6 separate regions of the Homo sapiens genome follow, and all the other regions are linked to region 3. Evidence: fine-mapped QTL for protein levels in blood plasma. A gene starts in region 3. Each other region holds a variant in brackets. All regions are shown on one strand. Distances are between the middles of the regions.

The links. PIP is the posterior inclusion probability: the model's chance that the variant is causal. The UK Biobank Pharma Proteomics Project read protein levels with antibody pairs (Olink). The fine-mapping took linkage between variants from a reference panel, not from the people measured, so its PIPs are less certain.
Region 1: its variant is fine-mapped to the plasma level of the PLB1 protein (UK Biobank, PIP above 0.99). The variant lies in the coding sequence of PLB1. If it changes the protein, the assay may bind it differently, which can mimic a change of level.
Region 2: its variant is fine-mapped to the plasma level of the PLB1 protein (UK Biobank, PIP above 0.99).
Region 4: its variant is fine-mapped to the plasma level of the PLB1 protein (UK Biobank, PIP above 0.99).
Region 5: its variant is fine-mapped to the plasma level of the PLB1 protein (UK Biobank, PIP 0.99). The variant lies in the coding sequence of PLB1. If it changes the protein, the assay may bind it differently, which can mimic a change of level.
Region 6: its variant is fine-mapped to the plasma level of the PLB1 protein (UK Biobank, PIP above 0.99).

What each region holds. Positions count from the first base shown.
Region 1 is chr2:28,536,633-28,540,720 of GRCh38, forward strand. It overlaps PLB1 (phospholipase B1), which reads left to right. Exons shown (of 58, transcript NM_153021.5): 10 at 1,687-1,749; 11 at 2,467-2,546; 12 at 3,734-3,809. Among named protein-coding and RNA genes, the nearest start is that of PLB1, 43 kb to the left of the region's middle. RefSeq lists a silencer at 2,590-2,884. The variant G/C (reference allele first, on the strand shown) is at 2,482.
Region 2 is chr2:28,614,017-28,618,104 of GRCh38, forward strand. It overlaps PLB1 (phospholipase B1), which reads left to right. Exons shown (of 58, transcript NM_153021.5): 44 at 15-80; 45 at 3,711-3,771. Among named protein-coding and RNA genes, the nearest start is that of PLB1, 120 kb to the left of the region's middle. The variant G/A (reference allele first, on the strand shown) is at 1,927.
Region 3 is chr2:28,493,709-28,497,796 of GRCh38, forward strand. It overlaps PLB1 (phospholipase B1), which reads left to right and starts at 2,352. Exons shown (of 58, transcript NM_153021.5): 1 at 2,352-2,461. The coding sequence starts at 2,407.
Region 4 is chr2:28,458,917-28,463,004 of GRCh38, forward strand. It overlaps the pseudogene SNRPGP7. Among named protein-coding and RNA genes, the nearest start is that of PLB1, 35 kb to the right of the region's middle. The variant G/A (reference allele first, on the strand shown) is at 1,804.
Region 5 is chr2:28,577,837-28,581,924 of GRCh38, forward strand. PLB1 (phospholipase B1) reads left to right here. Exons shown (of 58, transcript NM_153021.5): 22 at 271-322; 23 at 1,791-1,871. Among named protein-coding and RNA genes, the nearest start is that of PLB1, 84 kb to the left of the region's middle. The variant C/T (reference allele first, on the strand shown) is at 1,841.
Region 6 is chr2:28,593,289-28,597,376 of GRCh38, forward strand. It overlaps PLB1 (phospholipase B1), which reads left to right. Exons shown (of 58, transcript NM_153021.5): 33 at 393-466. Among named protein-coding and RNA genes, the nearest start is that of PLB1, 99 kb to the left of the region's middle. RefSeq lists an enhancer at 3,474-3,768. The variant C/T (reference allele first, on the strand shown) is at 1,715.

The DNA of each region.
Region 1 (4,088 bases), 43 kb after region 3:
TTGATAATAGACATTCTTCCAAACCAGGGGGCAAACGATACACATGGAAATGTACAAGTTCATTTGAAGAAATCAGCTTTTTCCTGACTTTGGGTTCTAGGAGTTTATTATGTATGACCTTATAGAGGAGGGACATCTTATAGGAGCATAATGTCTTTTACTGAGAAATGGGGACAGTTGGTGTCCCGAGCGACAACCATGCAGTGCCTGGAATGACTGGGTGGGCCCCAATTCCCTCTGCAGCTGCAAGTAAACACCTTGACCAGGGGTTTCTACAGCAAGATTCACACTCTAGAGAGAGCCACACAGGGTCCCCCGCCTCTCCAGGGACGGTGGGTATGGTTCAGATGGGCAGCGAGGATGCCTCTAGACAGAGTTCCCCTGGGCTCTTCAGGAAAGAGAGGGTGATGTTTGATGTCACGGTCAGGGAGCAGCTCACTTAGGAGAAAACTAGACAGAAGGCTTTACGGTAACAGACCTGGCTGACCCGGCCTCCCAGAAGCCAGCCTCACACCAAAGCAGGGACAGCCGGTGAAGGGGCAGAGAAACAGGGACACTGCATTTCCTCCTGTGTGGTGCCAGCCCAGGTGATTGACAGCTGTCTCCAGAGTCACTGCCTGTGTCCCCTCCGGGAAACAGAACAGCTCCTTGGCCTTCCTTGTCTTCCTGTCTGAGCCAAGTTGCCTTAGGGGACAGCCAGTCTGCTGTTTGTTAGGGGACAAACTTAGAAGTTTGTCTTGTAATTTTTATTATTTTTCACATTGAAAAGGTAAAGCAGGCATGAGCCACTGCACCCAGCCTGTAATCCAGCACTTTGGGAGGCCGAGGTAGGTGGATCATTTGAGGTCAGGAGTTTGAGACCAGCCTGGCCAACATGGTGAAACCCTGTCTCTACTAAAAATACAAAAATTAGCTGGGCATGGTGGCGGGCGCCTGTAATCCCAGCTACTCAGGAGGTGGAGGTTGCACTGAGCCGAGATCACACCACTGCACTCCAACCTGGGCAAAAGAGCGAGACTCCATCTCAAAAAAAAAAAAAAAAAAAAAAAGGTAAAGCAGGGTCCGTTTTTGAGGTCCTTCATTTGTTGATTTTCATGACCTGCAGGAAGGGGAGTGGTGTGTGTGTTGGGTGCGTGGGAGATGTCTTTAAATACTCAGGTGGCAGGACCCACTCATACTCTTTCTCTAGGAATGCTTATCTTAGGGCAAACACAGCAAGAGAAAAGCTAATAAAATAGGATCACATGAAGGTTCCGAGGCCCATCTGGGGCCTTAAATACAGGGTTAATTGTATTTCCCTGTTGGACCTGATTTTCTTTGGGAAAAAGCGATTCCTCAAGTCTTTGGGAGTAAGTCTCCTGTCCCTCAGTGTGAGCTTCAGAATCACACCAGGTATTTCTGATCTTGCTCTGACTTTGAGTTTGCCCTTTCCTGATGGAACTTTTCACCTGTGGGGAGTTTGGTTTTTCCCAGGTGGATGATGGGTTGGGGAGAAAATAGAAGAACAAAATGAAGACAAAACTAGGAAGCTCTGGGAATTCTGTCCTCCTTTGTGGAATGCCAGGTCTAGATGGTGCCTTTGCCTGTGGTCTTGCCTGGCAGGGATGGGCCTGTTGTGAGTCTGGGTGGCCTCACCTCGTGGTCCTCCTGCAGGCACCCTCACTTAGCACGGTTCTCCTCTCACAGAATGGGCTTGCGGCGGGCGGCGTGGATGAGCTGATGGGGGTGCTGGACTACCTGCAGCAGGAGGTGAGGCCACGGGCCTAGGGCTTCCCCAAGGGCAGTGGGGCCCATTTACCCTCATGTGGCCTCCACCGGGGTGGGGAAATGGACCCCTGTGAGGGAGACTGGGACCCTCGGGAAAGGGGAAACTTTAGAGCACCCCATCTTCTCATCCTTTCAAATGAGAACATGGGCCAGGAGAGCACACTCCACTCCTGCAAAGGAAACTTCTGAGAGAAACTCGGCTCTTCCTTGAGTCCTCGGTGGCCCTGCTCTTCCCTAAGGCCTCTCTCTACCTGAGACTGGGGCGAGGATAAGATGGAGGGGGCCTGAGGACCTTCAAGACCTTTCTGCTCAGTGACCGTGATGCTGCTGCAGGGTCTGAGAATCAGCTGGGGGTTGCTGTGGCCCTGCCTTCCGCTTTGCTCCCCTGGAGGGCAGCTTTCTGCTGGAGGAGGCTGCAGGCCCATAGCCCCAGTGGTCTCCCTCCCCTGTGGACACTGGTGGGAGGCGCCCCGCCCACCGTGAGGGACAGAGAGTCCTGTTTCTGGATGGCACAGATGCAGGGCTGGCAGCGCAGACTGACCCTGACCAAACATCTCCCAAAGGATCAGGCCCAGTTAACCAAGGGGAGGCCCATCACACTCAACCACACCCCAACGGGGCCCAAGCAGGAGTTCCAGAAAGCCCGGCAGCCATGGCGACTTGGCAAATACTCACCTCCCTCTCTGTGTGTCCTCCTAGGTCCCCAGAGCATTT[G/C]TAAACCTGGTGGACCTCTCTGAGGTTGCAGAGGTCTCTCGTCAGTATCACGGCACTTGGCTCAGGTAAAAGGGGAAGTGGAATGAGACACGCATCTGTGACACGGCTGTCACGTGTGCGGCCTGTGGGGGCCCTTCATGTGCCGTAATCTATGAGGGAGCCCTAAAGAACAGAGGCCAAAGGAGGCCGAGAAACACATGCGAGCTCACACCCGAGCGAGTGGCAGAGTCGGGGTGGGGTGGGCCCTCTGCCAAGCATTGTTTTGGGGACTGAGTCAAAGAATAAAATACTTTATTCTTTTATTCTGGTTGATGTTGTGCCAGAGGCTCTCCTCAGTGCCAGAGTGATTTCAGAGTTCGCCTTGGCAAAACATCCATAAGCTAAGAAGTGTTACTTCTGGAAATTGGATAGAAAAACGTAGCCTAAATGTAGTTTAACTTCACAGAACTTGATTCCTATATATTTCTGAAAATGTTCATAGACTTTAAACTTTTTGGAGCCAAATCCTAAGAATTCTGGCTCTGGACCTAGAAAAGAAGTTCATGTGGAAAAAGTCAGGGCAAGGGCGGTGGAGAAAAGAGAGTGCTGGAAAGGAGAGAAGTGGGGTGCTGGGGAAGGAGGGCTCTGAAGAGGATGCAAGACAGAGAAGGTACAGGGGAGGGAAAGGGGAATGGGATGTGGGTGTCTGGTGTGAAGAACAGTGAGCGGGGAGGAGGAGGACTGAGAGATGAAGGGGGAGAAAGAGCTTCCCTCTATCCCATAGTCACCCCCTAGGAAGAGCTTTCCTCCATTCCATATCTACCCCCCAGGAAAAGCTTCCCTCTATCCCATAGCCACCCTCCAGGGAGAGCTTCCCTCCATCCCATACCCACCCCCCAGGGAGAGCTTCCCTCCATCCCATACCTACCCCCCAGGGAGAGCTTCCCTCCATCCCATACCTACCCCCTAACCCATACCCACCCCCTAGGGAGAGCTTCCCTCCATCCCATATCGACCCCCTAGGAAGAACGTCCCTCCATCCAATACCCACCCCCCAGGAACAGCTTCCCTCCATCCCATACCCAACCCCCAAGAAGGGACCACCCACCCTCTATTCTTCTCAACATTTATGTCCTCTAAGACTTATGCTTCTTCATCCCTACTCCTTAAGCAACTCCTATGCCCCTTCTTCCATAAGAGGCGGGCTGGATGCATCCCCTTCCCTGCCCACACTGCCTCCCCTCTCTCATTCCTGGTGTGTTTTAACCTGCAGCCCTGCACCAGAGCCCTGTAATTGCTCAGAGGAGACCACCCGGCTGGCCAAGGTGGTGATGCAGTGGTCTTATCAGGTGAGCCCAACCTGGGATCCCAAGCTGCTGGCTCACCGGGGTGGCGTGGTCGCCAAGGAGAACAGGAGTGATAGGGACAATTAGTTGAGTTTGCTAATGTTAGGACTTCTCCAGCTGAATTCAGGACTAAGTCAGGAGCAAAGAGAGCTACTCTTGCTTCACATCGTGGTAGTGATTTCAGTATTCCTGCATATAAAATGGGGCCTGCAGGACTGGTAGGGGTGCGAGTTGGGGGACAGTGGGGGTACTTGAGGCAAAAGATAGTGAGGAACTTCGAAG
Region 2 (4,088 bases), 120 kb after region 3:
TTTTTTTCTCTTAGAATGAGCCCTTCCTGAGAACCCCTCGGAATAGTAACTACACGTACCCCATCAAGCCAGCCATTGAGGTAACCCCTGACTCACATCTGCCTCTCTCAGACACAAACCATTTCCACCTGCCAGGGGCTCGGGTGTGGTACAGGTTTCAGAGTATTCACTGAAGCAGAAATGTACTTCTTACATACTGGGGATTGGAATGTACAGAAAAGGCTCCCGGACCACGAAGCCCCAGGATTGTCCTAACATGTTCTCAAGTTGCTTACCTGACGTCAGCCCCCAAGCAGAGGAAGTGTCTATGGATCGATTTTCTTTGACCTTGGCAATCCTGGGCTCACAGACGTGGTTACTGCTTAGGCAGCTCAGCCTCTCAAGAGGGAGAGGCAGCTGGTGTGATGTGGCGTTGACTTCTTGGAAGGTGGAGGCTGAGTGGGAGGGAACTACAATTCTGGGGATGGGACCCAAAAGGAAGTGGAGGCACGTTCATGTTCCTGTGGGCCCCTAGGCCTTGTTTGGTTCAAGTCAATCATTCTAGTGCTGAGGATTCAGAGCCCATGGTTAATTCCATTGGATTAACCATGTCTGTGAGCCTAGGACGGCCACTGCAAAGACGGCCTGGAGGACCCCGGACTATACCATGACTGGCAGTCAGGCCTGGTCCGGATCAGGTCTGTTGGTCACCAGGATGGGGTTTGACCCGCAGTTTCAGTTTCACACCTATATTATATCCAGTCTCATGTTAGGGGCTAGAAGGCATGCAGAGAAGTATCGAACATGGTCCGGACCAAGGGAAGTGAGAGCCCAGTAGAATTTCACAATTATTGAGCACATACTATGTGCCAGACACTATTCCAGGAAGACAGAAATGTTAACCAGACAGATGGATCCCGGCCCTCACGTAGCTTACAATCTACTGAGAAAGGTGTCTTATATACATGGCTAGGCATGGTCATTTCAGATAGTGATGACAGCTCTGAGGAGCGTGATGGGGCTGGGGCAAGGGAGGCAAATTCAGGTGCACCATGCAGGCCAGGCCTTCCTGAGGTGAGATTTAAACTGAGACATGCATAATGAGGAGACACTTGCTATACAGGGAGCCAGGAACACAGTCCCAGGCAGAAGGACCATGGACCACACAGGCTCAGAAGTGGGACTGTGTTGGGTGTATTTGGGGAAGAGAAAGAAGGTCAGAGTGGCTGGGGGCATGAGAATGAGGTGGAGAGTGGGGGAAATGAGATCAGGAGTGCCAAGGAGCCAGATCACACAAAGCCTGAATTACTGAGTAAAACCACTGGATTTCAAGTGGAGAAAGATGGGAAGGCATTGGCGGTCTCAGGAGAGAGTGACATGATCTGGTTCACGTCTTTCAAAGATCTCCCTGACTGCTATGTGTAGAATGGGTTGGCCATCAGCAGGAGTGATTGGGGAAAGACATTTTATAAGCCAGCTGAAGAAACTAACCCATATGAAATCATTAAGAACTATTGGATGCTAAGCTCTGGGGTGCAAGCAATACCAGATTGCTGGCTGCGGGTTATGCTGTGTCCAGCCTCTCTGAATTTTCTCAGGCTCACGTTAGCCCAGTGGAGGCTTGTCCTCATTGAACCAGTGACCAAATTCCCTGAGAATTGAAATGTCAGCTGCATCTTGTGAATCAGGCATTTCTTCATTTATTCATTTACCTATTGGATGCCTATGTAGAGTGGGCACTGCACTAAGTGCTCGGTAGACAGTGGTGAGCCGAATGGGTCTGGATCTGCCCTCTTGGTTCTTCAGTCTCATGCATCTTTGCTTTTGCTGCTGGAAGAGCTAAAAATCCCAGAGCTAGAAGGGCGTGTGTTTGTTTTAACAGCTTTCTACTCAAAGTAACCACAGAAACAAAATTCTGTCATCTGAGGTAACGTGAATGAGCCTAGA[G/A]GACATTACGTTAAGTGAAATAAGTCAGGCACAGAAAGACAAATACTACATGTTCTCACCATATGCGGAAGCTTAAGAAGTTGACTTCACAGAAGTAGAGTATAAATAGTGGTTATTAGAGGCTGGGAAGGGTGGATGGTGGTTGGGGAGTAGAGATAGCAGAAATTGATTAACAGAAAATTACAGCTATATAGGAAGGAGAATTTCTAGTGTTTTATAGCACAGTAGGGTGACTATAGTTAACAGTTTACCATATATTTTCAAATAGCTAGAACAGCAGATTTTGAATGTTCCCAACACAAAGAAATGGTAAATATTTGAAGTGAGGGATAGGCTAATTACCCTGATTTGATCACTGCACATTGTAGAGATGTATCAAAATATCACACTATGCCTCATAAGTATGTACACTTAATATGTCAATTAAAAATAATAAAAGCAAAACTAATAAAGTGGCCACAAAGAGGCTTTACCTGGGAGCTTTTTAGAAATGCAGAGTCCTGGGCACCACCCCAAACCTGCTGAATCAGAATCTGCAGCTTAAGATCTTCAGGGGATTTGGATGCACTGATTTTGGGTGTGGTGCATGGTTCTTCCCTTGTGACGGATGAGCACGTTTCAATTCCAACCAGGATCTGTTAATCTACATGGAATATGCTTATCTCTGGTTCACCAACTATCTGAGATATATCTCATGTGCTGATGGCTGAATAACTTTTTACGTTGCATTTTCTGTGAGTATTTGTCATCTGCACACAAGCATGCTCTTGAGTTCATTAAACCTTTAAACAGAAGAAATCCATCAGAATGATGAATTGAGCAATCCCTTGGGAAAAAACCAAATTCCATAGGATTAAGCAAATAATATTTAAAAGAAGTTCCATTTTTGCTCTCTCATGATAGGAATATTTCAACAAGTCTTATCTTCATCATCTGACTGAACAGATGAGATGAGTTTTCATAGCATCTGGCAGTCAGACTCCTGGACAGTCAATCTGCTGGTCAAGCCCTACTCCATACTCAGTATGCATATATTTGAGACTTTGGGAAGATACTCAATTTTCCCCCAGATTTCTGGTACTAATCATTTCTATGCCCTCTGCTTCCCATCCCACTCCTTTCCCCAGCACCTGGAAAATATGTTCTGTATTAGAGACAAAGAAAATTGACTAAAAGCATCCAGGGTTGCTTACATCAATTTAAAAACATATAAGGAATAAGGCTGTTAAGTTAAATATGCAAAAAGACATACAGGTATCCAGAAAAGACAGGCAGAAACCAGGAGCTTTACAATTTTAAAATATTTTGTGTTATTATTCTAAAAATATTTTAATTATTGTCTAGGTTCTACCATTATAATTAGTGTCAGTTAGCTTAATTTTATAAAACACACATACCTGTAATCTCATGTTAGGCATCCAAATGCTGTGTTCCTTTGGGAGACCCACCTGTGTAGGACTTCATGGTTTTCTTCCCTGCTTTGGGGCAGCCACTGGCTCCATTCAAAGCATAGATATATGGGGATAAGAAAGGTGGTGTGTGGGTGCACATGTGGAGACATGCACTATGGGTTGTGCATAGGGGTAGCTAGACACACCCATTTCTCCCCCTTTAATTTCCCTCCTAGCCCACCTATAACTCACAGTTCTTTCCCTCACATGATCCTGTATGGTGACTCATTTCTAGCCTCCATCAAAAATCCCTTAGCTGGTTCTTCTTGGGCTGAAGCTTATCTCCCTGCACAATGAGTGTTGGGCACTGAATCTTTTCTCCTGTTGATTTAGAACTGGGGCAGTGACTTCCTGTGTACAGAGTGGAAGGCTTCCAATAGTGTTCCAACCTCTGGTGAGTGAAAACATCATCATCTCCTTCAATTAAGGGCCTTGCCGAATATCAGGTTGTGGGGAGACCCTGCAAACATACCCTGGAGCTTTAAGCAGGACTTGCTAATTCCCCTGCAGTGCAGACCTAGATCCTGCGGCCTGCCGCCACAGCTGGGCTTCCATGTGGAGGTGCACAGAGCTCTCCATTGGATGCTACTTCTTGTCTCCTTATAGTCCCAGTGGCAGTCCCTTAGGCCTCCCTGCCCAGTGAGGCAGGTAGAGTCAGGGATTGGGATCTACCTGCCTGTGCTACATGACCCTGCAGCTGGAACTTTCCTG
Region 3 (4,088 bases):
ATGGAGCCTTTGACTTCAGACGACTTTCCCCTTGTTTTCATAGCTGCTACTAGACCACATAAATAGTAGGTGCCAGTTAAGCTGCGATGCTGTAAGGGTGCCAAGAGGCTGGGCGACGTGGCTCATGCCTGTAAACGCGGCACTTTGGGAGGCCAAGGTGGGAGGATTGATTGAGCCCAAGAGTTCAAGACCAGCCTGGGCAGTATAGTGAGACCTCATCTCTGTTTTTCAAAAAAATTTTTAAAAAGAGTGTCTAAGAAATGTTGCTTCCCCTACAGCCTCACAGTTGGTGAGGATTCCTTGATGCATGGATGGAACTCAGAGATTTATTCTACCTAAAAGGACATCCAGTCTATCCCATACCAAAATGCCTTCCCAACATTCAAATGTTTTTAAGGCATTTCTCAATTTTTCTAAATGTGAAAGGAGTTAGAGGAAGGATGGTAACCCAGTTGGGCTGTGGTAGTCCTGGAGAGAAGCAGTTAAGAGATGGAGCGAGTACCTGGAGCGTGGAACCAACTTACTTCTGCGCATGCCCCATGTCCTTTCCACCCCACCTCCAGCTGGCCTGCACATGAGTGGGGACCTTGGCCTATTCAGCCCAGGCAAGTTCAGTGATGCTCCTCAAAGCTGCTGGTGGCATGGAGCTGGGTAAACTCCTGACATCCTTAGTGGGACAGCAGCTCTGGCTTCTCATTGAACTTGGGGGCAGTTTGGTGAAGTTGACAAGTGTCTACATATCCAGGGGCATCTGTGCTCACTTGTCCCCCACAGACCTTGGCCTTGGGTGTATTTTCTTCTTCCTTTTCTGTGTGTCTGTGTGTGCTGCCCTCTTCTAGGCTCTGGAACTAGCTGATGGCCAGCTGGACTAAGTGTGTCAGTGTCCACACACCTCTGGCATGTCCCAATACCCCCCTACAGTCCTGAGGCTTAGGCTAAGCCTTTGGCATTGGCTAAATCAGTGGTGACCCACAAGTCACATATTTTCTGAGCAGTTGAGAAAGGGAGACAACATCCTAAAACCAGAGATTCAGGAACAAAGGGCCACTCACTTCGTCTTCACTTTCTACTCAAGACAATAGAGGTTATAACAGTAATTAAAAACAATTTTTTTTTAATTGAGATGGAATCTTGCTCTTGTCCAGGCTGGAGTGCAGTGGTGCAATCATAGCTCACTGCAACCTTGAACTCTTGGGCTCAAGCAATCCTCTTGCCTCAGCCTCCCAAGTACCTGGGACTACAGGTGCATGCCACCATGCCTGGCTAATTTATTTTTATTTTTTGTAGAGATGGAGTTGCCCAGGCTGGTTTTCAAACTCCTGGGTTCAAATAATCCTCCTTCTTTAGCCTTCCAAAGTGCTGGGATCACAGGTGTGAGCCACTGTGTCTGGCTGTGATTTTTAAATATGAGAAAAGTGGGTCAGCCAGGAGATCAGAATCTGAGGTTGGGTCATGGGAACCAGCCCTAGAGTCTTAGCTAGACCTCAGAAGTCAGGATCCCAGCCTCACACCCACAAGCATGGCCAGAAAGCAAGGATAATTTAAATATATTTGTTCCTATCAACCAAGGCAATTGTTTCTTGATATTTGTGTAAAAAATTTAAATTCTACTCTCAAGGGTATTTGTCACTCAGGCTTTAAATGCCAGCTTTGTCTGCCCAGTTTAGACCCAGCCTGCATTCCTGACTTAGTTTACCCAAAGGAAACGGCTGATTTTGTCAAACTTGGTTCCCCCTCTCTGGCTTGTATCTCTGAATTCAACATGCAGACAACAAATCTATGGTGTGCACATCCACCCAACACAACTGGCCACCCATGGGTTTGGAGATGGGGGGAACAGAACAAACCTCTCTGTGTCATGCAAACCAGGGAACCTAGCAGAGCTTCTGAGACACGGTGGGAACACGTTTCACATTTGGAGGTAGGTTTATGGTTTACATTTGTTACAAGGTACTTTTGATCTCCTGGCTTACAACTGAGAAAGCTGAGGCCACGTTAAGGGATACACCCAAGTTCCCACAGCTGTGGTTGATTTGGAATTCCGACCAGCACCTGGGATTCCCAGGCCCACGTTCTTCCCAGCAGACCCGAACACCGGCAATTTCTGGGCACCCACCATCATGGAAGGCTGTATGGAGGCAGCTATGCGGCCCTGGTCTGTCAGTGTCTATGACTAGAACATGCTACCCATCATTGACTCATCTGCCTTAAGAACTCTTCCGCCTAAGTGTTAATATTTATCATTTACAGCCCGCCACTACCCCCTTTCAAAGGTGAACACAGTAAAATTTATGACAGGTGCTCTATCAGAACACAGAGGAACATAAAAGCAGGAGGAGGTGTGATAGCCCATCCATCTGCTGGAGCAGCTCTTCCAGAGGCCCGAGTCACCTGGAGCATTCTGGCATGGGGCTGCGGCCAGGCATTTTCCTCCTGGAGCTGCTGCTGCTTCTGGGGCAAGGTAAGCGTGCCTTTTGCTCAGAGGACAACCAGTGGTTTAGCCCCGCTGGTGTCCCATGTTGCTTAGGCAATGGGTGTGTGAGAGGAGTGTGTGCTTTTGAAGAGATAAAGCACAAAGCGTACAGTTCAAGAATAAGAAGTCTGGTTTGCCTCCTGCGGAATGGGATGCAGAGGCTGCCTACACAGGGTTACATGTCCCAAAGGCTGCCGGGAGCGAGGCAGATCTTGGGACAGGAGAGAAGTGCAGTCCGGTAGCAGTACCATGGTACAAAAAAAACCCCTGGATTCTATTTGTTTGTGCTTTGTGGCTTTGGGCAAGTTCTTCCACCTCCCTGGACCTTGATTTTTTTCATCCTTAAAATGGAAATACTACTACTATGCACATTTTGATCATTACTATTACCATTTATGAGCTTTGTTTTGTTTTTGAAGGACAAAGGAAGACAGATTTCCAGATGATAAATTCTAAAAGATTGCCTACATTCTTTAGTGCTGCTAAACAGAGTGCTGAGCTTTCATTGAACTGAGTGGGCAACCAGCCAGGGCTTTCCATTCCCCCCAACATTAATGACTGTGGGTAGATTGTGCCTCTGCCACAATCCCTCTCTGCCCCTCTTCTTCCCATCATTGGCTCTCCCTTTGCTTAGGAAGGCAGAATCTTTTAAACTGAAAAGGGCCTTAAAGATCTTTCATCTTCTCCAGATGAGAGGACGGGGTCTGGAGTGAGAAGGCACTTGCCCTTGACTCCCCAGAGAGAGTGGAGGAGGCATGGGACAGAGTCCTGGGCCTGCCTAGGGTCTGAGCCCATGCTTGAGGCTTCTCTGGGGCAAGTCAGTTACCGCTCTGAGCCGTGGGGGAGAATGACGATGCTTGCTATGCCTTCTGCACAGGATGATTGTATTTCTTTGATTACTGATGAGGCCAAGGAGTGTTTTCATAGAGATTGTTTGAGTTTCTCTTTTGTGAAGTGCCTGTTGAAGTCTTTTTCCTATTGATTTTTTAGGAGTTCTCCATATATGCTGTGTACTAGCTCTTTGGAGGTTACATATATGACAAATATCTTGTTCCACTCTGAAGCTTGTCCTCCTATGGGGACTTTTGATGAGCAAAATTCTTAATTTTGTGTAAATAAATGTAGACTACCCAAATGAGGACAAACAGAGGCTACTTATTCAGAGCTCGCTGTAGCGAGACATCACTTATGTTTGGCCAAGATTCAAAGGCAGGCAGGGGAGTGGGAAAGTTTCACAGTGGAAAAAAGGGAAATCTTCAGATCTGCTCTGGTTGGAGGTTGTTGGTATCAGGGACCAGCTGACTAGAGGCACGGCATCTGAAGTTATCCAGTTGGGAGTGTATCTGGCTTTCTCTGAGGGGTCCTGAGTTGGAAGCAGAGCAAAAAATAGAGAAGATGGCAGTCATTAACCAAACCTGACCATTCTGGGCTGATTGCTGCAGAGGCTGCAGTTTGGTTCTCTGGCCTGGCCGATTGCAGACTGTGGCTCAGAGTTCTGTTATCATATGTGGTCCCACCGTTGTCCATTTGTATATTCTCTATTTTTTTTTTTTTTGAGACAGAGTCTGGCTGTGTCACCCAGGCTGGAGTGCAGTGGCTTGGTCTCAGCTTACCG
Region 4 (4,088 bases), 35 kb before region 3:
ATGGGTACTAGGCTTAATACCTGGTTGATAACATAATCTGTACAACAAACCCCCATGACACATGTTGACCTAAGTTACAAACCTGCACATGTACCTGTAATTAAAAGTTAAAAAAAATAAAGAATTCTGGAAATGGATGATGGTGTTGGTTGCCCAGCATTGTGGGTGTAGTTAACACCGCTGAACTGTACACTTAAAAATGGTTAAAATGGTAAATTTTATGTTATGGCTATGTCAATCTAAAGAAAGAAATGGAGGCAAAATTAATATAAAGAGTTTATTTGGGCCAAGGTTAAGGACTATAGCTCAGGACACACTTCCAAGTTGTCTTGGCAATGCTCTGTTTGGCCTCTGCTACAAGCAGGTTATTTTGTTTTTTTCTGTTTTTTGTTTTTTGAGACGGAGTCTCGCTCTGTCGCCCAGGCTGGAGTACAGTGGCACGATTTCGGTTCACTGCAACCTCTGCCTCCCGGGTTCAAGTGATTCTCCTGACTCAGCCTCCCGAGTAGCTGGGACTACAGGTGTGCACCACCACGCCCGGCTAATTTTTGTATCTTTAGTAGAGATGGGGTTTCACTATGTTGACCAGGCTGGTCTTGAACTCCCGACTTCAGGTGATCCGCCCGCCTTGGCTTTCCAAAGTGCTGGGATTACAGGCATGAGCCACTGCGCCTGGCCACAAGCAGGGTTTTAAAAGTTAAAGGGGGCGGGTGCTCAGGAGGCTGAGGCAGCTTGAGCCCAGGAGTTTGAGTCTAGCCTGGGTGACATAGCAAGACCTTGTCTCTTAAAAAACTTTTTTAATTGCTTAAACATTTTAGTCAAAAAGGCAAAAGGAGACAATGAGTGGGCTGATAAAAAGTTGTTTGTCAGGAATTCTCATTGGTTAATGGAAATAACATTGATTAGTAATTGGCTATACATTGTTGAACTATAGGGTAAGAGTTATGGCATCCAGAGTGTGTGGCATTTTATAGCTACTTGGTGTCAGTTAGTCTTAGAGCCCACATAGCAAGGGGCTGTAAGACATAATTATTTAGCCCAAGATGGTGGAGAGGATGAGATGTGGCATGCTGTCACTTTTCTTATTTTTTTAACTATTACAAAAGTTTATTTAACAAAAAGTCTAATATGAAAATTTTCATGACCTAATTTTTACATCATAGTGAAATGGACCCTTTGGAGAGGGGACATGAAAGTCTCCGTTGAACAGCCACTATTTACACTTGTTCCAAGGCTTCTGACATGATGATACTATTTCCTCATCTTACCAGCATTGCAATATTGTTCTGTTGCTCGCTAGTTGCCATCTCCACACATTCATCTATCACAAGGTTCATAAAGGGATAAATCCTCGCAGCATTCCTTGGACATGTCTGCCACCGTTTAATTTCAGTGATAACTTCTTGTCCATAATTTTTTTCAGCTTGTGAGGGTGAGCTTTGCCACCTGTTCTGCAGTCTCACAGATGCCTTGAAACGGAATGTGATGTTGTTACTTTTCATTGCCTCTCTGGGCCTGATAACTAAAGAGCGTGCAGATAAAAAGGTTCTCTTCTTTCTCATATATTTTGCTACAATAAAAAAAAATTTTTAGGCCAGGGCAGTGTGACTCATGCCTGTAATCCTAGCATTTTGGGAAGCTGAGGTGGGTGGATCACCTGAGGTCAGGAGTCGAGACCAGCCTGGCCAACATGGTGAAACCCCATCTCTACTAAAAATACAAAAATTAGCTAGGCATGGTGGTGCATACCTGTAATTTCAGCTACTTGGGAGGCTGAGGCAGGAGAATCGTTGAACCCGGGGG[G/A]CGGAGGTTGCGGTGAGCAGAGGTTGCTCCACTGCACTCCAGCCTGGGTGAAAGAGTGAGACTCTGTCTCGAAAATAGTATGCCTGTGATCCCAGCTACTTGGGGGTTGAGGCATGAGGATTGCTTGAACCTGGGAGGTCAAGGCTGCAGGGACCTCCACCTGCCTATATCTTACGCCTTGTAAACTAAGATCATGCCACTGTACTCCAGTCTGGGTCACAAAGTGAGACCCTGTCTCAAAAAAAAAAAGACCCATTCATTCGTTCATTCAACAATTGCTTAATTGAATATGAAGGCAGTAAGTGTTAAGAAGAAAAACAGAGCAAGATAGGAAATGTGTGCTCTATTGCTATTTTATTTTGAGTAGCTAGGAAACATTTCATTGATGAGGCATCATTTGAACAGAGAACTGAGGGAGTGAGTCCTGTAGTTACCAGAGAAGATACCAGGACAAATGTAAAGTCCCTGAGGCAGGTACATGGTGTCTTTGAGGAACAGCAAGGAAACCAAGGTGGCCAGATCACAGCAAGAGAAGGAGGAAGTGTATAAAGAGGGGAAGATCAGAGAAGTATCTGGGTCCACATCACCCGGGGCCTTTGTAGACTGTGCTAAGGACTCGTTTCTTTTCCTTGATAAGGTAGAAGGCCAGTGGAGAGTGTTGAGCAAAGAGTGAAAAACTGGCATAGGTGTTAAAAGGTTTCCTTGGCTGCTATGTGGAAAATCACCAGTACAGTACCAGGAGTAGAAATAGGAGATCAGGGCTGAGTGTGGCAGCTCACACCTGTAATCCCAGCACTTTGGGAGGGCGAGTCAGGAGACCAGCCTGGGCAACATACTGAGACCCCACCTCTACAAAATAAAATAAAATAAAATAAATAGGAGATCAATGAGTAGGCTATTGCAGCAATCCAGGTGTATTCAAAACTCTTCTAGAAATAAGAAAAAAAAAAACAAAACAGTGGCTTGGACCAGGAAGACAAAGAAAGGCAGAAAAAATGGTCAGATTCTGAATACATTTTAATTTGAAGGTAGAAACAAGAATCCTTGTTGGGGTGTAAGAAAAAGAATGAATGCCATGGTTTTTGCCTGGGAACCATTAAGCCGGTGTTTCCATCACCAAGACAGGCAAGTCTATGGGAAAAAGCAGGTTTAGGTGGGTCAGAGTGGGAATCAGGATTTTTGTATTGACCTAGCTTTTTACTGTTTCCCACACTCTTCCTTTGTTTCTAATGATCCACATTTGTCTTCTGTATTGTTGCCTTTCAGCCTGAGAACTTTCTTAAGCATTTCTTGTAGTGAAGATGCTAATGGTGAATTCTTTTAGTTTTCTTGTTTTTGGGGAAATTTCTTTGTTTTACCTTCATTTTTGAAGGATATTTCATAAATCTGGGTTTGAAAAACTGGCTTCTGCCCTCCATGGTTTCTGATGAGAAGTCACCAGTGATTTGATTTTTTTTCCACCCCATGTGTAACATATCTTTTTTCTTGGGCTGTGTCAAGATTTCCTCTTTATCTTTGATTTTTAGCAGTTGGACTATGATGTGCCTAAGGGAGATTTTCTTTGTATTTATCCTACTTGAGGTATGCTGGGTTTCTTGAGTCTGTAAATGCATGTCTTTCACCAAATAAGGGGAAATTTTAGCCATTGTTTCTTCAAATATTTTCTCTTCTTTTATCCTGTAGTCTTTCTTTTTTCCTTCTGGGGTTTCATTTCACATGTTAAACATTTTGATACTGTTTTTACAGGCTCTTGAGGCTCTGTGTTTTTGTTGTTGTTGTTTGTTTTCAATCTTTGTTCTCTTTGTTGTGATTGGATACTTTTTGTACTGATCTGATTTCAAGGTTGTTGACTCCTTTATTATCTGAACACTGTTGTTAAGCCAAACTGGTGAATCTTTTATTTCAAACATTATCTTTTCCAGTTCTAGAATTTCTATTTAGTTTTCCTCTAAATCAAGTTTCTCTGCTGAGGTTTCCTATCTTTTTATTTGTTGTACATGTATCATCCTCAGCTTGCAAAGCATAGTTATAATAGCTACTTGAGAATTATGATTTTGTTAATTCCAATATCTAGGTCATCTCAGGGTCAGTCTCTGTTGATTGTCTTGTCTCTTAAAAATGGATCACATTTTCCCTGTTCTTCATATATGAAATAATTTGGATATTCTGAACATTATGATTGTTAAGTTGTGGAGACTCTGGATTCTGTTATTTCCCCTAACTGCTGATTTTTTTTTTTTTTTAATATAGATTCTTAGTTTGTCACTCAGGCTGGAGTGTGGTGG
Region 5 (4,088 bases), 84 kb after region 3:
CTCAGGGGAAACAAAAAGGAAAATAGTCACACTGAGAATCACCCCCTCCTACGTGCAGTGCTCTGGCCTTCCCAAGCACAGTCACCACCCCACACCCCCGCAGTGGAGCCTGAATGGGGAAGAAGCTCTGCGACACGGCCTTCAGTCCATTTTCCTGCAGGAGGCCCACCCTGGGCCTTCCTCCACCATACATTTGATTGCTGTTCTCTCTGCTAAGGGCCCCTGCCAGTCCCCACTCCTCACAGCACTTCCTCTGGTATGTTTCCACAGGGATCTACCTGTCCAGGCCAGGAGGCTGGTGGACCTGATGAAGAATGACACGGTGGGTCCCTGGGATGGGAAGTAGGCAGGAAAAATCCCTGGACACAGAGAAGATCAGCTGTGGATTGAGGGATGGTTGGGAGCCCGGCTTGGGTTTCTAGCAGACACATCTGAAGCCTAAAACACTGCTTCTCTGGAAAGGGGATTCCTATTTGTTCAGTCAGTTGGCTGTTGAAATTAAACATCTACTGTGAGTCAGGCATCAGGCTGGGGCTGCAGATGCACAAAAGAATACAACACAGTCCTGTCCTCAAGGAGCTTGGAAGCGGAGACCAATGTGAAGAATCAAATTATAAAACAGTTGCCACGTGCTCCACCGAAAGGGCTCTGTATAAGACACGGTGGGGTGCAGAAGGGACCGGCGCCTCTGCTTAGGACAGTCAGGGAAGGCTTGAAAAGGAGATTTTGGCTGTTATTCTGGGCACATGGCCTACGGGAGAGCCCTGGTCTGCAAGGAGCAGTACCAAAAAATAAAAGTAGAGGAGATGTTTGAGCCGGGTTCTGAAAGATGAATATGCAGCTCTCCCTCAAATGAAAGCACGGTCTCAATTCAGAGGCTTTTTGCAGGGGTTTCTAGGTGGGTAAAATAAAAAGGAAGATTAGGATGAGTTATGTTATATATAATTTAATGTACATCAAAGTCTATTATTGGGAGGTTCTCAGGGTATTTCTACCCTTAATGTCAAACTTTCCTGGATCTTGTTCTCACCTTCCTCCTTCCACGCTCTTTTGGAAGTGTAGATCAGGGAAGCAAAGCTATGTAGGCCTGGGGCAATATAAGAGGCTTGCAGGGCCGTGGCTGCCCTGGGGCCATAGTTTATGGAATGTGTATGGCTGCACCCTCTCCACACAGCCCTGTGACTTCATATGCTTTTCCAGGTCCTCTTTGGAGGAGACAGATCCCAGAGGTGGCAAAATCTTTTCAGAGCTTGTGCTTAGAGCTGCCACCTTACCCTACTCAGCCTCTCTGGCTTGACTAGTTCATGGGCAGAACTAGTCACCAGTGTGAGTATTCCAAATTTGGAGAGCTCCCTCTTAATGAAAGATGGTCTTTCTCCCTTAAGGCACAATTAGAATTCAGGATTTCTAGAAGATTCTGGAACAAACATTCCTTTCCCATGGCCAAAACCAGCTTCCTTATCCCTTCCCCACTTCCTTGCTATGCTGGAGATGGAGGAACAGAGCTCAGAGGGCATCTGTATCCACTCCCACCAGGACACGTGGAAACTGACGTGTGTGCTTTTGTGTGTGGACAGAGCCACATGCAAGTTCAGTGATTCCACCTAAAATAAATGAACCATTTAGCACCTATGATCTCAGGACCCTAAAAGCAAGGAACAGAAAATTCAGAAGTCCATGAGACACTCTGGTGTGTGAGGACCCATCTTTTCTAGTTTGCAAGCATTTTGTGTTTTCCTTGACTTGACTCTGGGACAAGGTGCTTACTTCTGTGTTTCTATTCATTTCAGAGGATACACTTTCAGGAAGACTGGAAGATAATAACCCTGTTTATAGGCGG[C/T]AATGACCTCTGTGATTTCTGCAATGATCTGGTAGGTCTCCAGGCACTTTACTCAAGACTCACCCCCAGAGAAGGATTTTCACAGCCCGGTCACTTGCTCTGCCCGGGAGGAGTACAGCTAAGTTGGGACTCAGGCTCATGGTTTGTCTTGGATCCAGCCTGGGATGAACCCTGAGACTGAGAAGGCATTCACCTCCAGGGAACCATTCAGCTGGGCAAGCAGGATTAGTTATAAGATTGATCCTGATTAAGTTTCCTATCAAGGGAGCTTGATCATATCATTCTAGAAAGCAAGATAACACCCAATGACTAGAAAAATCTTTCCCATGTTCACAGAGAGTCACAGGTTAGCTCCCTTCCCCAGTCTCCAGCAGCCTTGCCCTTTCCACCTTTGTGCTGTCACTTGTATGGGAAGGTCGATTTCCTGCAGGCATTTGGGCAAGCTTCAGAGCCAAGTCATTCTGGGCTGGTGGGAAACCCAAGATCAAGGCTGCTGCTCCATGGATGCTGCGTGTCCTCCTGGAACCTCAGTCTCTGAGCTGATAGAAGCCTGACAGGGCATACCCACTAGTCTCCCACCCACGCCTATGCCAGGAATGTACTAGGAGCAAGGCAGTGGTGAAGGAAACACAGGCCCTGTCCTCAGGAACTTGCACTGCCAGCGGAGAGAGAGACAGGCAGTTCATCACAGCACAAAGCAGACATCAGGATGTTGTTGTAGGGATACACACAGAAGAGAGGTCTAAAAGCAAAGTTGGCTGGGTGTGGTGGCTCACACCTGTAATCCCAGCACTTCGGGAGGCCGAGGCAGGCAGATTACCTGAGGTCAGGAGTTCAAGATCAGCCTGGCCAACATGGTGAAACCCTGTCTCTACAAAAATACAAAAATTAGCTGGTTGTGATGGCAAGTGCTTGTAGTCCCAGCTACTTGGGAGGCTGAGGCGGAAGAATCGCTTGAACCCAGGTGGCAGAGGTTGCAGTGAGCTGAGATCATGCCACTGCACTCCAGCCTGGGTGACAAAGCGAGACTCCATCTCAAAAAAAAAAAAAGCAAAGTTGCTGTGGGACCCTGGTGTGTGGGAAAGGGGGTTGTTGGAGAGATTTACACAGAGCAGGAGACTTTCCAGCTCAGGCTTGAAGATGAGGAGGTTTGTCAGACAGAAAGGGGACCAGCAGAGTGAGGTTTAGGAAGTAGTGGCCTTGCTCTGGCCTGTGAGCACCTACCTGGAGGGATGCCCCAGCCCCCAGGCCCCTCACAACCCACTTTCTTGGCATCAAAGTCACCAGGAGTCAGGAGTTTTCAAGCTGTGATCTGAAGGGCCCAGAGGGGAGCCTTGGGGCTGCTGGTAGCCCGTGGGGAGGTGGGACCCTGGGCCCCTCCCCTGCTCATGTTAAGTGACACAGCTTTCATATGTTCCATACAGCAGGGCTTTTGGTTAGATTTCAATCAGAGAAAGAGTTCCACTGCTGAGAAAGCTTTAAAACCGCAAATATCGAGATCAGGAGAAACAGTTAAAATGTGTTTAGGCTTGGTGTGGCCGGTGTTTCACAGGACGCTCTTCCCCTCTTCCCCTCCCATTATTGCCTTGATTTATGTAGGGTGTGCTTTCATACATGTAGGGTGTGCTCAGTAGCCCCAGACACTGAGGCTCCAAGAAAAAGAGATCGGGCCATAGGACAGAGGCTGCTCAGATTGCAGGAGATCTTAGAGTCATCTGCTCGGACATCCCCATGTTAGAGGGGCCTGGAGATGTGATGCTTTGGCTCTACAGTTAGTGGATATGGAGTAGATCCAGAGCTCCACGCAAAAAAATAAATAAATAAATAAATAAATAAATAAATAAATAAATAAATAAATAAAATTAAAAAAAGAGGCATAGGCATTTCCCTGAGGGCCACAGCCATGACAAACCTGAGGATCATGGGGCTGGTGTCCAGGCTGGGGCCCCAAAGACAAACACTATTTCAATATTGCCCACTGTGACTGAATACAGAAAGAAGGGGACTCTGGCCAGGTGCGGTGGCTCATACCTGTAATCCCAGCACTTTGGGAGGCTGAGGTGGATGGATCACTTGAGCCCAGGACCAGCCTGGGCAACATGGGGAAACCCCATCTCTACCAAAAAATACAAAAATTAGCCAGGTGTGGTGGCACGCACCCATGGTCCCAGTTACTTGGGAGGCTGAGGTGGGAGGATTGCTTGAGCCCAGGAGGTGAAGGTTGCAGTGAGCCATGATCACACCACTG
Region 6 (4,088 bases), 100 kb after region 3:
GTCGCTTAAGCCAATGAGCTCTCTCTTCATGCTCATAAAGAACGTAGGGGCATAACGCTGGGAACGACATTATTAACACTCTCTCACGTTTGTAAAACACTTGAGAGTTTTCAAAGTGGTTTTTACAACTGTAATCCAATTTGATCCCCAAAACACTCCCTGTGAGATGAGCAGGGCGTGTCCTCAGCTCAGCGAGGAGGCAGCTAAGAGTTGGGGAAGGCACACAGCTGGAGAGGAGGATGGCAGACTTAGAGCCAGGGGCTCCTGGTTCCATGTCTGCTCCTGCCACCACGAGTGCATTGGGAACCCCCTCTTTGGAAGCCCTGTGCATTCACAGCCTCCCTGTTCTCTGACTTGCTAATTTTCCTATGGACTCTGGTATATTTTCAAAGGCTGGCAATGGAATTGGCTCCAAACCAGACGACCTCCCCGATGTCACCACACAGTATCGGGGACTGTCATACAGGTAATGTTAACCTTTGACCTCTCCCAGCGTTCCCCCCACAACAGAGATTAGGTGTGGCTTTGTCTCCTGTAAATATGTAAATCCCAGAGGTCGAAGACTTGGTCTGGAAGGGGCTTTCAGAAAGAAAAAGCTATATATTTCTGCAAAATGTGAACATTTGGTGAGTGGAGAGGATATTTTACTGTTGATAATCTTTTTTTTTTTTTTGATTGTGCAGAGAAAGTAAACCAGGGTTCTTATCAGACTCCTGGGTCAGCAAATCCAACAGGAAATGCACCAGAAAAGCACCAAATCCCTGAATCTTCACCTCCCCGCTTGCATGTATACGTGTACACGTGGTGTTCCTACGTCTCTGTTTACTGTCTTTATGTGTTTATTCATGTTGTCTTGTAGTCACACAGCTGCCTTTACATATATGTACACATCTGCACAGAAAACCTCTGAAACCCATCGCACACTTCGAGAGGCCATAACCAAGACACAATCACAATCAGCCATGTCTTGAAAGATTAGCAATTCGACAAGAGGAAAGGGTGAGAAAGGGCATCCCGAACACGGAAGTGGAGAAGCTCAGGGTGTGTCAGGCGAGCGGTTGCGTGTAGATATTCTCAAGTTTCTTTCTCTCCTAATAAAGTTCTCATTCCTGTAGGCTTCAAAGTAAGTGGCGAGTAGCTCAGAATTTACCTGGGAAAACAACTAGAACGAAGCTGGCCACAAGGGGGCAGCGTGCTAATGAGTGGCGGAGCCAGGACAGCACCTTTGCTGCCGCCTCCCTTTTCTTCTGAGTCAGTTTGCTTCCTGGGGAAGTGACAGGGAGCAGGGAGGGGGTGATCAAGACTGTGAAGGTTCTCTGGCCAGACCTGAGCAGAGTCCCAGAGAGGATGGGTTTCCAGGGCGAGAGGGAGGCGCCATCACTCGGCCTGTACCACCCACAACGAGGACCTAGGTTGTCCTTAGCATGAGGACATCAACCTCTCAAGAACAGAGGTCAGTGCCTTCCTGCGCCAAGGTCCCTGCGTTTCCACAAGTCCTTGGTCAGGTACCTGGTCCTAACAGGCTGCCATGGAACAAATCAGAGCCTCACTGACTCACCATTCTGCTCCTAATGAGGCTACAAGAAAAAAAACCAGAGGAGAGAAAGCAGAGCTTATTACAATCAGGAAAGAGCATGAGGTTCTGGCAGCTGCACTTGGTCTCAGCTAAAGAAGGCAATGACCTCATACGATAGCATGGGAAACAAAAATCAAG[C/T]AGACGAACCACATTGCAGGTGATAGATACGCGACGTGCACCTGGTGGGGCAGCCTGGGGAAGTGAGGTGATGTGCCCTACTTTAAAACAGATCGACCAGCTGGGCTCCTGGGATTCAGATATGAACCAGCAGTCCTCTACTAAAAGTTTCTTTCTGCAGCGATGGGAAAATTCAGCCATTGCTCTGTTTCTTCCAACAAGTGAAGTCCATTACAGCCTAATGTCTCAATCTTTTAGTTCTAGCTCTAAGGCCTCAGGTTCAATGGCTGCTGTCCCTTTAAACCCTTCATTTGTCCTAAATGTTTCAAATAGCTGCCCCCAAATGCACGTGTGTTAAAGATGGAAGCTCTAGGTCGGGGTCTGAGAGACAGCTTGACACTTGGTAGAATACATAGACTACTGTGTCTCAAAGTGTGTTCCATGGAACATTAACTCCAGACCTGTTCCTGGAGAAGAGAAAATCCTTTGTATCTGAGGGGGAAACATTACCATAACCTTCCTTTGGGGAATTCATGTGTGTATTAGCATATTAAAGGCTCTCATAAGGCCTGCAATGCAGAAATCTATTTAAGTTTTATCTGTTTAACCCAATGTTTCCCTTAATTCCAGAACATTTTCTTTGTTCATAACACCTGTTAACACCTCCTGAAAGTGTTCACGTAGTAGACTTATCTGAGAAAAGCAATTTTTGAGCCGTTAAAGCTTCTAGATTGGACAAACTAGGCAATTAATGATACTAGATCAATTCAGAATGCAATTTGAGCCTCTTCCCCCTGGGAAACAAAGTGAAAAGAGTGGATCTCATGGAATTAGGGGAGAAGTAGACCCAGAATTCATGGGGGGTGGGTGGCTGTGAACAGGACCTGCAGAAGAGGCTCGGCTGTGAATATTTCCAAGGCCCCTTGACCTGTGAGATTCTGTAGTGAACGGTTCCAGCTTTGGCCAGCTTAACAATGTGCTGGGCCCCAAGGTCTTGAGAGCATTGCCTTTTCTTCCATTGAAATAAGTTCGCTTGTTTGGGACCATTCAAAGGATCAAAATAAAATTTACTTACCAAAAAAGTTGCCTTTGTTTTATTAACTAGGGGGTCAATCTCATATGACTGAAACTCCTTCAACAAATGTTACTGAGCATCTACTCTATTTTTCTGTACACTTTAGGTGACAACAGATGACCAGAGCCCAGCCATTGAGCTCTGTAACATAAATTGAGTGTAACATAAATGATATCCATCTGAAGGGTCTAAGGTGGACTAGCTGTTTGATATGGGTCTACTTCCTTTCACGTTTCATGGTTCTGATCAAAATGAGAGTTTGAATATTTTTGCGCTTTTGTGTTTATTTGTCATAATCCTTTTCTTCTGGAAGTTTTCACTTTAAAATGGAAGTCAGGGAGAGATTTTCATAGCCTGTTGGTCTTGATTAGCCACCATACTTGTTTTAAAATGAAGATACCTTTAAACAAGAAATTACAGTAGGAAGTACTTGATGCGTTTGTGTTTGTGTGTCTATGTTTATATCTTTATTGAAGGAGAAAAGGAGGCAGAATTAGAACACAAGTGATTGGCAGAGGTATATAAATTTATACTTCTTTTCAAATGTAAAATATTCTGATTGGGTGCCTTTAGTCCAGAAAAAGAAGGATTAGAAAGCAACAGCTTCATGCAGAGCTGGAAAAGAATCAGACGCTTAAACAAACGCCCATCCACGAGCAAGTTAGGCTCAGACATCTAACGGAAGGGTGGGGAGCGAGAACTGAGTGAAGGAGAAGGGTAAGATTTACGGCATCTGCCTTCTCTCTACCACCTGAATTGCTTGCAGAGCCTCTGACTTAAGTCCTTGACCACTCTGGCATGCAATAGTCCACTTCATTCCAAGCATTCCTTGAATGAAGAACAACTATGACTCATGGCCTGTCCCTTAGAAGTCTTTGCTGGTGGGCTGGAAGCTAAGGCCACGTTCTTAAAATCCATTGGCCTGGGCCAGGCGCGGTGGCTCACGCCTGTAATCCCAGCACTTTGGGAGGCTGAGGCGGGCGAATCATGAGGTCAGGAGATCGAGACCATCCTGGCTAACACGGTGGAACCCCATCTCTACTAAAAAACAGAAAAAATTAGCTGGGCATGGTGGCGGGTACCTGTAGTCCCAGCTACTCGGGAGGCTGAGGCAGGAGAATGGCATGAACCCGGGAGGCGGAGCTTGCATTGAGTGGAGATCACACCACTGCACTCCAGCCTGGGCGACAGAGCAAGACTCCGTCTCGAAAAAAAAAAAAAAAAAAATCCATTGACCTGGAATATAACATGCTGGGATTCGAAAAAGAGACACAGAAGAAAAAGAACAGTAAATACCATATATATGAATATCAGATTTTG